Homo sapiens: one gene and its partner. The protein of the gene in region 1 interacts with the protein of each later gene in a biochemical or structural test. Each region holds a gene or a part of one and is shown on either strand. Other genes may lie near its edges.

What was found. The genes of interacting proteins can lie anywhere in the genome.
Region 2: the proteins of DNTTIP2 (region 1) and DNTT form a complex in vitro, tested with the Homo sapiens proteins (one study listed by BioGRID).

Annotation. Positions count from the first base shown.
Region 1 is NC_000001.11:93,876,206-93,883,842, forward strand, and holds the start of DNTTIP2 (deoxynucleotidyltransferase terminal-interacting protein 2), read right to left. Parts: upstream 3,002-7,637; 5' UTR 2,944-3,001; coding exon 2,872-2,943; intron 1,658-2,871; coding exon 63-1,657; intron 1-62. UniProt on the Homo sapiens protein: Regulates the transcriptional activity of DNTT and ESR1. May function as a chromatin remodeling protein. Part of the small subunit (SSU) processome, first precursor of the small eukaryotic ribosomal subunit.
Region 2 is NC_000010.11:96,299,794-96,307,449, forward strand, and holds the start of DNTT (DNA nucleotidylexotransferase), read left to right. Parts: upstream 1-4,640; 5' UTR 4,641-4,704; coding exon 4,705-4,907; intron 4,908-7,656. UniProt on the Homo sapiens protein: Template-independent DNA polymerase which catalyzes the random addition of deoxynucleoside 5'-triphosphate to the 3'-end of a DNA initiator.

The sequences.
Region 1 (7,637 bases):
TGGTAAATTAACCACTTGAAATACATGTATCAAAAACTTATAAAAATAAAGGAAAAACTTACAGTTTAGCCTTTGTGCTATTTAGGAAGTCTTCTTCATCACTAAACTCATCTTCATTTTCGTCATGGTCTGATGAATCTTCTTCACTTTTTTCATCCTCTTCCTCTTCTTTTTCTTCCTCAATGGCAACCTCACTTGCCTTGTCTTCCTCTTCCAAGTAAAAATTTTTATCAGCACTCATTCCAGGAGTTGTGTCAATTACAAACAATGCATTGTCACATGACAGACTTCCTGTGTCTCCACTTAATGACTCCCTTTGGCCACTATTTTCAACAAAACATAAAGTATCCTCTTCATTCTCACTGTTTTCAGACTGTTGGCTTTCATCACTGCTGAGAACTAGTAAGACAGAATTATCTTTACCCTGAGATGTGTTGGGCGCAGACGTGTATAGTTTGGTATCACATTCAAAATCTACATTCCCTTCACTGTTCATGTCTTCACTGACACTTATAACTGTGGACTCTTCTTCATCATCACTACCACCACAATCACCAAACTTTGTCAAGTCACTTGCTTTTATGGGGCTCTTTTTGTTGTTATTCCATCTGCCTACTTCCACAGTTGCAAATGTTTGAGTTAATGATTTCATTACAGCCTCAGAGTTCAGATTAGAGTGCACTGATACAGCATTTTTATTTTGGGGGGTTGAATGTCTCTGAGAAACTAACTGTTGAAGGCTAGTGTCCTGAAGTTCAGAAAGATTCTTCAGCTGAGAACTTTTCTCATTAATTTCTTTCCCCTCATCTGTTATTCCATTGGCATCTTCATCCAAATCCTTACAATTCTGTTTTGTTTCTTTAAGAGATTCAACATTGGCCTGTTCGTGCACTGTTAATATATTTTCTGAACTTCTGTGGGAGAAATCATCATCAAAGTCATTATTATAGAAATTTGGCTTATTTATCTCAGAAAGAGATCTTGCTTGTAAATGGGAAGTTTGTCTGGTATCTGAATCCTCTGAATTCACAGGTGTACCCACGATCTGTTTCTCATTTCCTGGTACAATCTTACTATCTTTCTTTTCAGTTTGTGCCTTTAATTTCCTCTGCATACTCCTGGTTCTTCTAGTTGCAATTCCAGAGAATGAAATGTCTGAGCTTGATGTCTCAGCATCAGATATAGCTTCTGTATGAGATTCTTGGCTTGGATCTGTCAGAGATTTAGCCTTACTTCTTCTGGCTCCTGTAGTTTTTTCTGTAGGAAGCACAATTCTAGAAATACCTGAAACATGAGATTCTGCTTCAGACACTATTTCTTCAGTGTAAGACTCCTTTGTTGGAGTTACTTTCGGCTTTTTCCTAACACTGGACACTGGGGAGCATGCAATTAAGATCTGCCTTCTCCTAGTTACCCTTAAAATGGTATCATGGTGCTCAGACACAGAATAATTTGACTCTGCCTCAGAGGTTTCTCCATCCGTAGATGGTTCAGTCCCCTTTGGTAGTGAGCCTGTAGTTCTGCTCTTCCTCTTTCTAGCTTTAGGAGTTCTAGGGATTAAACTTTGCTTCCCAGTGGTCTGTGATTCAGCAGTAGTTCGGGCATCAGATCCAGTACTACTTTCTGGATGCGCTTGAATCCCATTAGCAGCAAAACTCTGCAAACCAGAGAAAACACACTGTAATTTAGGTAGGGCTGGAACAAGGGCAAAGCAAATGAAATACTGACCCCAAAAGCTAAAACCCAGTAAACAAGATTACCTTTAAAACAAAAAACAAAAAAACCTGCCCAACTCATGATTTTTAAAAAATCAAAATTTGGCCGGGCGCGGTGGCTTACGGCTGTAATCCCAGCACTCTGGGAGGCCGAGGCAGGTGGATCACGAGGTCAGGAGTTCGAGACAGCTTGGCCAACATAGTGAAACCCCATCTCTACTCAAAGTAAAAAAATTAGCGGGGCGTGTTGGTGCGCACCTGTAATCCCAACTACTCAGGAGCCTGAGGCAGAAGAATTGTTGGAATCCGGGAGGCAGAAGTTGCAGTGAGCCGAGGCTGCGCCACTGCACTCTAGCCTGGGCGACAGAGCAAGACTCCGAATCAAAAACAAACAAACAAAAAAATCAAAATTTAAACACTGGAGCCAACCCTGCATTTACTTCACTAGCCTCATCCTTCCTAGATGTAACTTCAGAAGCAGAACGATTAAAATTTTTCTGTTTAAAGTCAAATATAATGGGTAGACCAACATTCTGACCCACCTATAGAAGAGGGGAGAAAGGGAATATTAACTCTGAACACCGATGTGTTTAGGAACACACTGATGGAATCAGTCGCCGCCCTTACCTTTACGTACAGGAAAAAATCGCCGCCGCTCCGTTCCCTGCATCGCTGAGTCAGAATGAGACAGCCGACTAACGCCACTAAGAGTCACCAGGCGACGACACCACAGCCCTCCTCACGCCTTAAGGAGGTGATGCTGGACAGCTGCCAGCCTCCCCACGTGAAAACGAAGCTTTTTTTCCAGCCCCCCTAAATGGGGCTTGTGCATGGTGGCCGAAATTAACCCTCCTTGGTACCGTGTTAACAGTAAGGTTTAAAAGTTCGAACTGTGCTTCTGCATTAAGGAGTTGAACGACCCAAATAAAGTTATCTAACCTCTCTTCCATACTAAAAATTGCCTTAAGAGACAGTGGTGAAGGCTAAACAGTTTCCGTGACAGGCTTAGCACGGGGCCTGGGAGACCCAAGCGCGCGGCAAGCTCGGGTCCTCTCTGTCGGCAGGTCCTCACCCTTAACCGGACCCTTGCGCCGCCCCGCCTGCCTGAGCGCGGCTCTGCGAAGCGGCGAGAAGTAGGGAAGACTGGATTTCCTACCTTTTGCCCGGAACTTTCAGCCGACGCGGCTTGGATGCTGGCCTTAGCCCGTGCAGATCTGGTAACCACCATCTTTCCGGCTCCCTCGCGACCACCACGACTTCCCTCTTCCCTGGCGCTCCGGAAATGCGTCAGAGAACTGCCTCGAGCGCGTTTTCCGCGCAGATCCGAGAATTCGCGAGAATCTCCGCCCAGCCAGTTCAGGCCAGGGCGGTCAGAGACAAAGGGCCTGGGTTTAAGTGTGCATTTCAGAGCTGTAGAAGGCAAGCCAGATTTTTGCTGGGAAAGACCTTCATCGGGGCGGCGAAGCCCGCAGTGACAGAGGGTCTTAGCGTACCCGTTCACATGAATTGTAAAAACGCACTTACATGCCATTCGTTCTTTCATTTGTTTAGTAGAATCGTTTGAACCCGGGAGGCGTTCTTTCATTTCTACGTTCTAAAGAGCTTAATGTAGCCATTGGTATGTCCAAGGGAGAAGTTTGAGATATTTGTGCTTTTTAAAGAAAGACAATATTTACTCGTGTATTGTGACGCTAACTATAAATAAAATTTAAGGACTTGGTTGGGGTAAAAGGGATATAAGGTGCTCGCAGGAACTGGGAGACGAAGTGGAAAGCTGTATAATCTAAACGTGAGATGGTGTTTAGGGATTGGGAATAGCAGAAAAGAAAAAAACGTTAAAGAAATTGTAAAGGAGAAGAATAAGGTTTTGTTGTTGTTGTTGTTGTTGTTATTGTCACAGTGAAAGGAAGAGTATGACCAGAATCAAGAGGTTTCTTTGGTTATCTTTTGAGATAAAAGGTAGAGAACTATGTTTGAGGGGATGGGAAGGGGTTGAAAAAATAAGTAAACGCAAATTATTGTTGGAGGTGAGAAAGGATGAATGAGTGCCTCACCAAACCTAGTCTCTACTTCATGACAGAAAACCAATTTTTTATTTAAAGTCACAGAACACTGTGTCGATGGACACACTGCTTCCCAGCTTAAAATAGCTTATTTTATAGTCTCTCTTGCAGCCAAATGTGGCTATGTGACTACGTTTTAGCCAATTAGGTATAAATTGTGTGCATGTCTTTAGGGACGGCATCTAAAAGAGAGGAGGCCGTCCCTGACTTTTTTTTTTGGAGACGGAGTCTTGCTCTGTCGCCCAGGGTGGAGTGCAATGGCGCAATCTTGGGTCACTGCAACCTCCGCCTCCCGGGTTCAAGCGATTCTCCTGCTTCAGCCTCCTGAGTAGCTGAGATTACAGGCGCCCGCCACCATTCCTGGCTAATTTTTTTTTTGTATTTTTAGTAGAGACGGGGTTTCACCATGTTGGGCAGGCTGGTCTTGAACTCCTGCCTTCAGGTGATTCACCCGCCTCGGCCTCTCAAAGTGCTGGGATTACAGTGCTGGGATTATAGGCCTAAACGACCTCGCCCAGCCCTCCTGATCTTTTAAAGTGCATTTTACTTCCTGGAAAGTTGGGTTCGCTGGTTTTCAGGCGGCAAGTTTGTGCCATAAGGATGAAGGCATGCTTTAGAGATGGCATAGCAGTGAGATGGAAAAATCAACTTGTGGAGCTGCCCTATGAGCCCTCAAGAGCCGCCTTCTAGATTTTTCACCTGATGGAAACACCTTGTTAAAAGCCACTGTTAATTAAGGATTTTTCTATTTGCAGCCGAGCCTAATGCTAACTGAACTGGATAATAAACAGAGATGTGGGTGTAGTCAGAAAAGAATGCACCTTCCTTTGAGCCAGGAGGAAAGAGTTGATATCTGAAACAGAGAGGAGAATGTGAATGCAAGTATGTTCAAGTGGAGTGAAGAAGAGAAGATTTTGGGTAGATAATAACCTCTGTAAGTAGGTGATACATCTCAGAAGAATGGAAATGGTTTATATCAACATTTGTGGCAAATGTGGTAAGAAGCAAAAATAAATTTTAGTAGGGCCAAGTAGCAGTGAGACTATGTAAGAAGATGAACAGAAGAGAAAGGTTAGATTTGAGGAGGAGACAAATCGTGTAGAAGGAAAGTGAACCAATTGGATGTAGGTTGTGGAGATCAAAGCATCAAAGAACAACAGCATCAATCATAATAGTATTGGCCACTTAATATCTGCTGGATACTAATCTACGTGCTTTACATGTATTCATTCATTTAATCTCCACATCTTTAATTTGAGCAAATGCATGAAAATAGAAATTAAGATGACAGAGGTAGGTGTAGAAAACTGGAGAGAATATTAGAAAATCATGCAATGTCTAATACTCACTTGCAAGCATGGCCCTTTCAAGTAAAGAAAAAAAAAAAGGAGAAAACCAACTCATATACAATCTAAGGTCAAGAAACAAACGTAAGATACTAAAATTGTCAGTACATAGTTATAATATGAGAAGATTGAGCTGGTCTATCAACAAATCTACCATAGGCCAAAAAAAAAAGAAGTGTTTTTACGTGGGCTTACCAGGTTTGCCATATTCTTTGCCTATCTTCTTTATCTGAAGTGGATTTAGGGCAAATACAGTATATTTAATTTTAGGTATATATAGTATATACAATACAGTTGACCCTTGAACAACACGGGTTTGAACTGGGAAGTTTCACTTATGCAGTGATTTTCTTCTGCCTCCACCACCCCTGGACAGAAAGACCAACCCCTCCTCTTCCTCCTCAGCTTACTTAACATGAAGACAAGGATGAAGACCTTTATGATGATCCACTTCCACTTCTCTTCCTTATGATTCTCTTAAAATTTTCTTTTCTCGTTTATTGTAAGAATGCAATATATAATATATACAACATATAAAATATGTATTAATCAACTAGTTATCTGCAAGGCTTCTGGTCAATAGTAGGCTATTAGTAGTTAAGTTTTGGGGTAGTCAAAAGTTATCTGTGGATTTTCAACTGTGCAGGGGGGTCAATGCCCCAACCCCCACATTTTTTAACGGTAACCAGTACTATTACTCAGGCCCAAAAGGAAATTTACCTTAAATAATCTATATTTTACTAATTAAATCCTTAAACTGAAAGGTCAAAGCTCCCTGGAATTTTAGGCATTAACCAAAAGATGAGAGTTTTAGTGCATGAGCCTTCTAAAAATGCATACTATTCATGGTCATTCTGCATTGTTACATGTAAAACATTACTATTAAAATTAAGTTTGACCTGTAAGATGTCCAGTGATCCCATTTTCTGGTCTTCAAACCTTTGAATGTGGGCTGGACTTAGTGAGTTCTAATGAAACGAGTATGACAAAAATGATGGATGTCACTTTCAGGATTAGGTTAACAAAAGGCTGGCTTCTATCTTGCTCTCTCTCAATCATTCACTCTGTAGGAACCTAGCTGTACGTTATAAGCTGTCCTTTGAAGAGAACACTGTGGCAAGGAACTGAGTGAAGGAGGCCTCTGGCCTACACCCAGTGAAGAATTAAGGAACTCAGTCTGACAACGTGTGAGGCACTGAGTCCTGCCAACAACTACACGAGTGAGCTTGGAAACAGACCCTCAGTCCAGCCTTCAGGTGAGACTGCAGTCTTGACTTATCCATTGCTGCATCTGGATGCCTCAAAGTCATCCAGATACAACAATAGATAACCAGTAGTTATAGATTAACTTCATCTCTCCTAAAATTTCAAGTAAAATAAATAATACAGGCCAGGTACAGAGGCTCATACCTGTAATCCCAGCACTTTGGGAGGTTGAGGAGGCAGGATCACTTGAGCCCAGGAGTTTGAGACCAGCCTGGGCAACATAACAAAACCCCATCTCTACAAAATATATAAAAATTAGCCAGGCATGGTGGCATGCGCCAGTAGTCCCAGCTACTTGGGAGGCTGAGGTGGGAGGATCACTTGAGCCTGGGAGGTTGAGGCTGCAGTGAGCCATGATCATGCCACTGCACTCCAGCCTGGGTGACAGAGCGAGACCACGTCTTAAAAAAAAAAAAAAGAAAAAAGAAATAATACAGTATGTACTCATGTCTAGCTTCTTTCACTCAGCATAGTGTTTCTGTAATTCATCCATGTTATTGTGTATACCAGTAGTTGATTCTTTTTTATTGCTGAGTATTTCATTGTATGACTATATAACAATGGATTTATCCATTCAGCTGTTGATAGACATTTGGGTTGTATCTGGTTTTCAATATTGTATTTGGGGGCTTTTAGAATTCTGTAATGTCAAATGATCATTTAAGATTGAGTGCAAACTAAGCTGGGTGTGGTGGCATGTGCCTGTAGTCTCAGCAACTTGGGAGGCTGGAGCAGGAGGATTGTTTAGTTCAGGAGTTCTAGGCAGTAGTATGCGATGATCACACCTGTGAATAACCACTGCACTCCAATCTGGGCAACATAATGAAAACTGATCTCTATAAAAAACAAAAACAAAAACAAAAAACAAAGGTTGAGTGCAAAATAAAGACATTTCAGACAAATGGGATCTAGAAAATTTACTGTCACTAAAGACCTTTGGTAAAGAATTACTAAGGAGGCTAGGTACTGTGTCTCATGCCTGTAATCCCAGCACTTTGGGAGGCTGTGGTGAGAGGATCACTTGAGTCCAAGAGTTCAAGACCAGCCTGGGCAACATAGCGAGATCCTGTCTCTACAAAAATAAAAGTTAGCCAGGTGTGGTGGTGCATGTCTGTAGTCCCAGCTACTTGAGAGGCTGAGGTGGGAGGATGGCTTAAGCCTGGGAGGTTGAGGCTGCAGTGAGCCATGATCATGCCACAGTACACCAGCCTAAGAAACAGAGTGAGATCCCTGTCTCAAAAAAAAAA
Region 2 (7,656 bases), on another chromosome or scaffold:
GCTGATGGGAAGAGGGCTACTTCTCCACTGAACCATGGAAAACCTAAAATCCTCCCCATTGTTTCCTGCCCCATACACTTGTACTCAATAAAGATCTCTAAGAATGATCATGTGGAGACTAAATATTACCCAAAATGGAAAAAATTTAAAAACAATCCCGAACTAAGGGGAGAAGTGGCTGCCTGGGAGCATCAGCATGGAAACCAGTGAGCAGCTGTGTTCTTTGTTTCCTCATAGCCATCATCACCTGAACAGGCAGGAGCATTGGTCACATCTGCCAGCATCATGGGAGTGGCAGCATGAAAGGGAGGACAGAACAGTGGCCCAGCTCCCATGTGGACCAGGCAGGCAGTTGTCATGCTATCTTATTCATCACTTACAATGTGAAGAAGTTGGCACTATGACTGCTATTTTACATGTTGGAAACTGCGAACCCCCCATGGGGTAAGGGAATGGCCCAAGCTCATACATCTGGTAAGTAGCAGGTGGTTCAGGCTTGTGTAGCTCCTGAGGCACCAATACTTCCAGTTGCATTCAAAAGGGTGCTGTAGGTGTTCTACAAAACAAACAAAGAAAAGGTAAGCATGTTGAGAATACAGTGGGCGAACACAGTTTATTACAAACCTTTAATGTTCTAACACACATTGTATAGAGTTTCTCTGGTTTCCCTACACTTAATTCACTGCAGAATTTTTGTTTTGCCTGGAACACTTCATGGGACCAGTGTTCCCATAAATCATTGCAGGACACCCCTCTGGTCTCATTAGAGTCTTAGGTCTGTTTTATTTTTTTGTCTTGTTTTGTTTTCTTTTTTGAGACAGGGTCTCACTCTGTTACCCAGGCTGGAGAGCAGTGGCATGGACAGGGCTCTTTGCAGCCCCGATCTACTGGGCTCAAGTGATCCTCCTGTGTCAGCTCTTCCTAAGCGGGCTGGCACCACTTTTGGAAGAGTCTAGGGAAAGCAAAAGACCATTGGGAAGGATTGTGACAGGATTACCTACAAAGTATATGGGAACACAGGGAAGGGAAGGGGGAACAAGGAGAAACCTGCACTATTACAATAGCAATGGACAGTTCTTGGAACTTGCATGCCAGTGGTCTTTGAAGTGCTTTAGTCCTCATAGCCACCTGTAAGATAGAAATCATTCTAACCCCCATTGCAGAGATAAGGGAAATAAAGCAAAGAAAGGTTAGGTTTTGAATTCAGGTAGTCTGGCTCCTAACACCTGTATTCTATTTGTTCATATTGAAGAGTCTTAAATGGAGCAGAATTCTCCACCAAGTAGCATAAACAAATAAACTTTTGTTAAGACACTGAGATTTGGAGATTATTGACCAATCTAGTAGATCAAGGAGAGTGCTCAACATCTGATGCAAAGAGCTTCAGAAAATCATAGTATAGTAAGAAGAAATCAATTCCTGCTATTGGCAGCAATGCCAAAGAGCATAAGAGAACTCTGTATAGTGTTTTATTATTTTCAAGGCACTTCATGAGCACGATTTAATTTAGTTCCTGAGAAGGCGATGAGACATCTGTGCTCTCAGACCTTATTTCACACCTCCCTTCACCACAGGGGATTGGTTTAACAGACATTAATTGCTGAAAAAGCAAAAAGAGGACATTGAGGTAACTCAGAGAAAGAAACTGCAAGAAGCACACTACACCACTGGGCTGGAGCAACAAAGGGATGGAGCTGGGATTGTTGAAAACTGGAAGTTTGGAGCAGGGCTCCCATGGAGCTGGAACACAGATCTTTAATAAGGAAGTGCTGCCTGTCGTCCCTGGTGCCATAGAATTTCATAGGGAAACCTCTGCAGAGCTGGGGCTCAGACTTTTGAGGAGATGTCACCTAAGTGGTATTGATACCTCTGAAGGGTACAGTAAGACTGGGTCTGGTTGTGCAGAAAAGAAAAAAAGAAAAAGAAAAAAGCTAAAGACTAGAACCAATCACTGCTGTCTGAGTAGAGAACCATTACTGCGAAGACCCTGACCTTTGTAGCAGCAAGCAAACAAAAAAGGTCACCTCTTTCCTCTTATCTAGACTTTCAGTCTCCCTCTGGTATCACCATTGGCAGAGCCTGACATAAAGTCAGCTGGCAAATGAGAAAGAGAATTTGCTCAGTCCCAGCCTCAACCTCATGGAATCCATCAGAAAAAAGGTAGATTTGCAGCTGAGAGATGATAGCCTGATAACCAGACAGGCATCAGTACATTTGAAATTTTTGTTGGTAATGTTTTCAATACCAGTGACTCAAAGCAAATTAAAATGTGACATTGTTTAATATGATATTTTGATGATTTAGTAGTTTCACAAAACATATATATCCGATTTCAGATTGAACTGGAATGTCTCTAAAAACAAAACATAAATTACTACGAACTGACATTTATTGAAAGTGCTACCTTTGTGTCAAGCACTCTGCCCAGCAGGTTATGTGGGCTATCTCAGTCCTCATTTTACAGATGGGGTAAAGCTGAGGCTTAAAGAAGTTAAGCAACTTGCTTTGAAGCTTCAGAGCAATAGAGACAGAATTTTTATGGGCAGCCTGACGAAGCCTGAGCTGTTAGCCACATCTCAGTACTACCTCCCCATTCCCTTTACTGCTTAGGTGGTGCACCTTTACTATTAGGTGGCTATACCTTGGGAACGAACACAACAATCCCAGACTCTTGCTAGAATCATTTACTTAACTCCCTGCTGCAGCACCATTTGGTAGCTAAGACTGCATTCTAACATGAAGCATTCAGCTCTTCAGTAACCAAACACATAATAGTGAGGGTCAAAATAGACTCTCATCTTCCAGTTGATCTCTAGCAAACAGTCATAGCATCCGGGAATTTCAGGGCTGCATTATAGGCCCTTACCAGATGTCTGAATTCCCTTCTGTTACAGCTCAATAAACAGTTATCCAGCATCTGTTTGAATACTTTTCATGACTTGTAACACACAACTGTATAAAGCTGCTCTCTGTATATTTTTAGACAGCTGAGTTACTAAACAGGTCTTACTTGCGGAGAACTGGAATCTATTACTCTACAATTTCCACCTGAAGATTTCTGATTTTGCTTTCTTGAGCAACACAGAGTGCTTTACCCATGCCTTAAGGCAGCTGTCACATGACTCTTCCCCTAATACGGTTGTGAGGTGCTCACGTGTTTTGGAGATAGCAAAAGTCTCAAATAATATGGCACAGACGGCCAGCCATGGTGGCTCACACCTGTAATCCCAGCACTCTGAGAGGCCGAGGTGGGCCGATCACCTGAGGTCAGGAGTTCAAGACCAGCCTGACCAACATGGTGAAACCCCATCTCTACTAAAAATACAAAAATTAGCCAGGCGTGGTGGCGTGCGCCTGTAATCCCAGCTATTCAGGAGGCTGAGGTAGCAGGATCGCTTGAACCCAGGAGGTGGAGGTTGCAGTGAGCTGAGATTGTGTCACTGCACTCTAGCCTGGGCAATAAGAGCGAAACTCCATCTCCAAAAAAAAAAAAAAGGACAAAGGGTGAGCAGAGCTCAGATTGGTTATTGGAGAAGACAATACAGAGGAAGGCTCCTTGGTGGTTAAGAGTAGTCTTTTAAAATCAGACAGATCTGAGTCCAAATCCTAGCTCAATCATTTCTCAGTTGTGAAAATTCAGTAGCTCTGTGACCTTGGGCAAATTGTTTAGCCAAATGAGAAAGGTAGGACCACCTGACAGTGGTATTGTGAGGATCCTGTCAGCTAAGGCTGGTAGGTGCTTGCCTTGGCCGTGTAGTAGCTGCTCAGGAAATGAGATCTATAGAGTGTATTGGTGAAAGACAAATTTAATTTTGCACATAAAGTTATGAAAATGTCTCCTTATGGCAGTGGTTATCATCTAAAAGTCATACCATCCCACTGAAGAAGACCTATTTTAGGGTTTATAACAGACTACTCTCTGGACAACCTTAATCCACTTAAAAAACTAATATATGCATACAGCATTTGGAATCCAAAGAACTGAATTCAAGATATGGCTTGGCCCCTTATTCTGTGATCTTGAATAACTGAGCCTTGGTTCTCTTGCTTATAAAATGTACCTATGTAAGTGAACAGGTGGTAATACCCACCATGAAATACTATGGAGCAGTTAGAAGCAACAGAGCAATTAGAATACGGATCTGGAAAACATAGTTCCAAGTGAAATAAAAAGGTGATTGGCAAAATGAGAAATGTAACAATGCCATTTATGTAAAGTCAAAACAACCACAAGCAGAATATAACACCCATGCAAATAACAGACATCCAGTACAGTGTAATGATTGTCTACAAAAGGAGGAGAATGCAAGTGAGTTGGGAGGTTTAAAGGGGATCAATAAATAAAGACCACAGAAGGGCCTCAGTACATTTAGAAATAAATAACATGCAAACAATGATGCTTCCCTACCTTCCTCACGAGGTTACTCTGAGGAGCTAATGAGATTGTGCGTATGAAAACAAAAGTTAATTGACTGTCTTCATTATGATCTCCATATTGGACAAATGAACTGAACAGAGATAAAAATTCCCCATCACACTTTGGCAGGAAGCTGTTGCCAGGGCAGCACCTGTGAAGCCCTGGCCTGGCTTCAGAGTCTGCTGGTGAGATGACATCAAAACCCTTCGTGTAGGAGGGTGGCAGTCTCCCTCCCTTCTGGAGACACCACCAGATGGGCCAGCCAGAGGCAGCAGCAGCCTCTTCCCATGGATCCACCACGAGCGTCCCACTTGAGCCCTCGGAAGAAGAGACCCCGGCAGACGGGTGCCTTGATGGCCTCCTCTCCTCAAGACATCAAATTTCAAGATTTGGTCGTCTTCATTTTGGAGAAGAAAATGGGAACCACCCGCAGAGCGTTCCTCATGGAGCTGGCCCGCAGGAAAGGGTTCAGGGTTGAAAATGAGCTCAGGTAGGACAGCATCGATCTTGCTTTGTAAATAAGCAGAGGCTTTGTGAACAGCTTCTTGGGAACCCAAGGAACCTGTGTTTTCTTCCACATGTGGAAGAGGTGATCTTCCCACTGGGAGAACAGCAGATTTGAAATCAAAGAACAACTAGTTAAGGAAAACGAGATAAGTGGGGACTGAATACAATTATATTGAAACTAGTTGACACCAAAAGATGAGATAAATTTTTTGTTTTTTGCTTTTCACTCCTATGAGATGTGTTATTTAGGGATGATAAGCAGAACACTAATTGGAAAATTTAATGCTGAACCACTCAATTCTATTCTTGACCAATTTGAACAAAGTATCACTGGGTTCAACAAAAAAGTTTTGGCTACTTTGATGCAGAAAGATGATTTGGTTGCTTGGTTCTTACCTATACATCTGGGCGTGCTAAGGCAGCTAGCATCTGTGGTGGGCGAGGATGACTAGCCAGCTTACCACAGGCACCCAGATGTGGCCTTGACCACATTTTTCCAAAGAGTGGTCCTAGTGGGGTTCTTAGAAAGAGAGATGCTAGGTAAAGATGTATTCACTGTTAAGACAGCTCTGTCCAGGGATGACAGACATCACACTGAGTGAGATGTAATCAGAGCCCAGGCAAGGAGGCGATAGAAGCATTTGGACCACCTAGATTGGTTCACTCACTAATCCACTCACCTTGAACAGCAATTATTCTTGTTGTTTTTCTAACTTCTGTGTAAGCTCTTCACTGATCTCAAATAGATGAAGAGAAAACAAGCAAAATCCAGAAACAAATGGTATTAGAACCTTGACATAAGTGATGGTTCTGGATTAAACTGTTAAGGGGCTTGCAATGAAGGAGTAATGATTTATGCAGTTGACCGCTTTGACTGTGCAAGAAATAAATTGACCACAAATTTTCAGGCAAAACTATAAAAATTTTATGTGAAAGGACATTTTGATTGTATAAATAGTCTTTGATATTTGAAAATAAAACTGACAAGCATGTCATGCAGAAGAAATGTCAGCTTCCAAGTGTTGAGGAGACATATTTCAAAAGTCAATTTTCAGATATGTTAATGTTCGCAACACCCTGATTCATATGACATTGACTTTTCATTCATTTTTTGCTAAAATGCCCCATTCAGAAATTCCTGAATTTCCTATGGCCCTTCTTCCACCTGATTTCTCTTTGCAAGGTCTCCTTTTCTCTCTTGCTGCCTCTCTGTAACCTCCTACAGCCACTCTGAATCTCATTTTCTAACATCCTTTCCAAGAAAATCCTAGATTTCATCTAACTGTTAAGCCTGCCTGATATTACAGACTTACATAGAAGGCTAGAGTTGGAGAAGACAGGAAGATTATATAGGTAAAGAAGCCAAAAAAATAGATTTTTTTTTTTTTTTTTTTGAGACAGAGTCTTGCTCTGTTGCCCGGGTTGGAGTGCAGTGGCACAATCTCGGCTCACTGCAACCTCCGCCTCCCAGGTGCAAGTGATTCTCCTGCCTCAGCCTCCCAAGTAGCTGGGACTACGGACACGCGCCACCACAATCAGCTAATTTTTGTGTTTTTAGTAGAGACGGGGTTTCACTATGTTGACCAGGATGGTCTCTATCTCCTGACTTTGTAATCCGCCTGCCTTGGCCTCCCAAAGTGCTGGGATTACAGGCATGAGCCACCACGTCTGGCCAAAAATAGATTTTTTGGAAAAGAAATTAAAAGCCTTAGCAAATATGGAACTGCTTTTCATGGTAAAGAAATTTGACAAGGGTTAGGCAGGAAGGAAAGAACCAGAAGCACCACTTACTGGAAAGCTCTCCATTGAAACGTCCAAGCTTCCAGCAAGGACCCGCTGATTTATTATAGACACAGCAATGAATACATACAAGGCGGCTGAGGCAGGCACTCAGGGAGATGATGGGAGGTAAGTTTCTTCTGTTGGCAGGACAGCTGAAGAGGCAGCTACATGCCCCAGATGCCTGCTGCCAGGGACCAAGCCCAGCTGCTCAGGCGGCGGAGGAAGCTCACTGGTGCATGGTGAGCAAACTGCCGCTGTGCATGTGATGATGGCAAAGTTCCCAGGCTGGTAGCTCAGAAGACACATTAAATACAAATGTGCTCTATGGCGCAAAAATAAACCACAGGAAGTAGAAGTCCTAGGTCTCAAACGGAATTTCTGTGCATAGATATATAGACTTTAATTGGATAGAGAAATAAAAATTATTGTAGGGGACAAATCTCTAGATACGAAATTTAGAAACCTCAAATCCTGGCTCTGAGCCTCCCCAGCCATGGGGTATGGGACAAGGTCCCCTCTCTCCCGACTGATTTTAATATCCTGATAAATGGCCTATCTGATGTGATCACCAAATGAGATAATGCATGTCAATGTGCTTTGATAAATTAAAACAGTTAGACAAATGTAAAGTGTAATTATTTTCTTGTGAATTGCTGGATCCATTGACCTTTACAGCAAAACCCTAAGGAATGGGCTCTCCCTCCACAATATGAACAAGGTCAAATGATATCAACAAATAGAACAAAGACAGGAAAGAAACCCGTCAACATGTTATAACTGGTTTTTTGGGAGTGGGGGTTGGTAGGGAGAGATTATGGCTGTTTTTATTTTCTGGGTTTTCCAGTTTTTTTTTTTTTTTTTTTTTTTTTTTTTTTGAGACGGAGTCTCGCTCTGTCCCAGGCTGGAGTGCAGTGGCACGATCTCGGCTCACTGCAACCTCCACCTCCCAG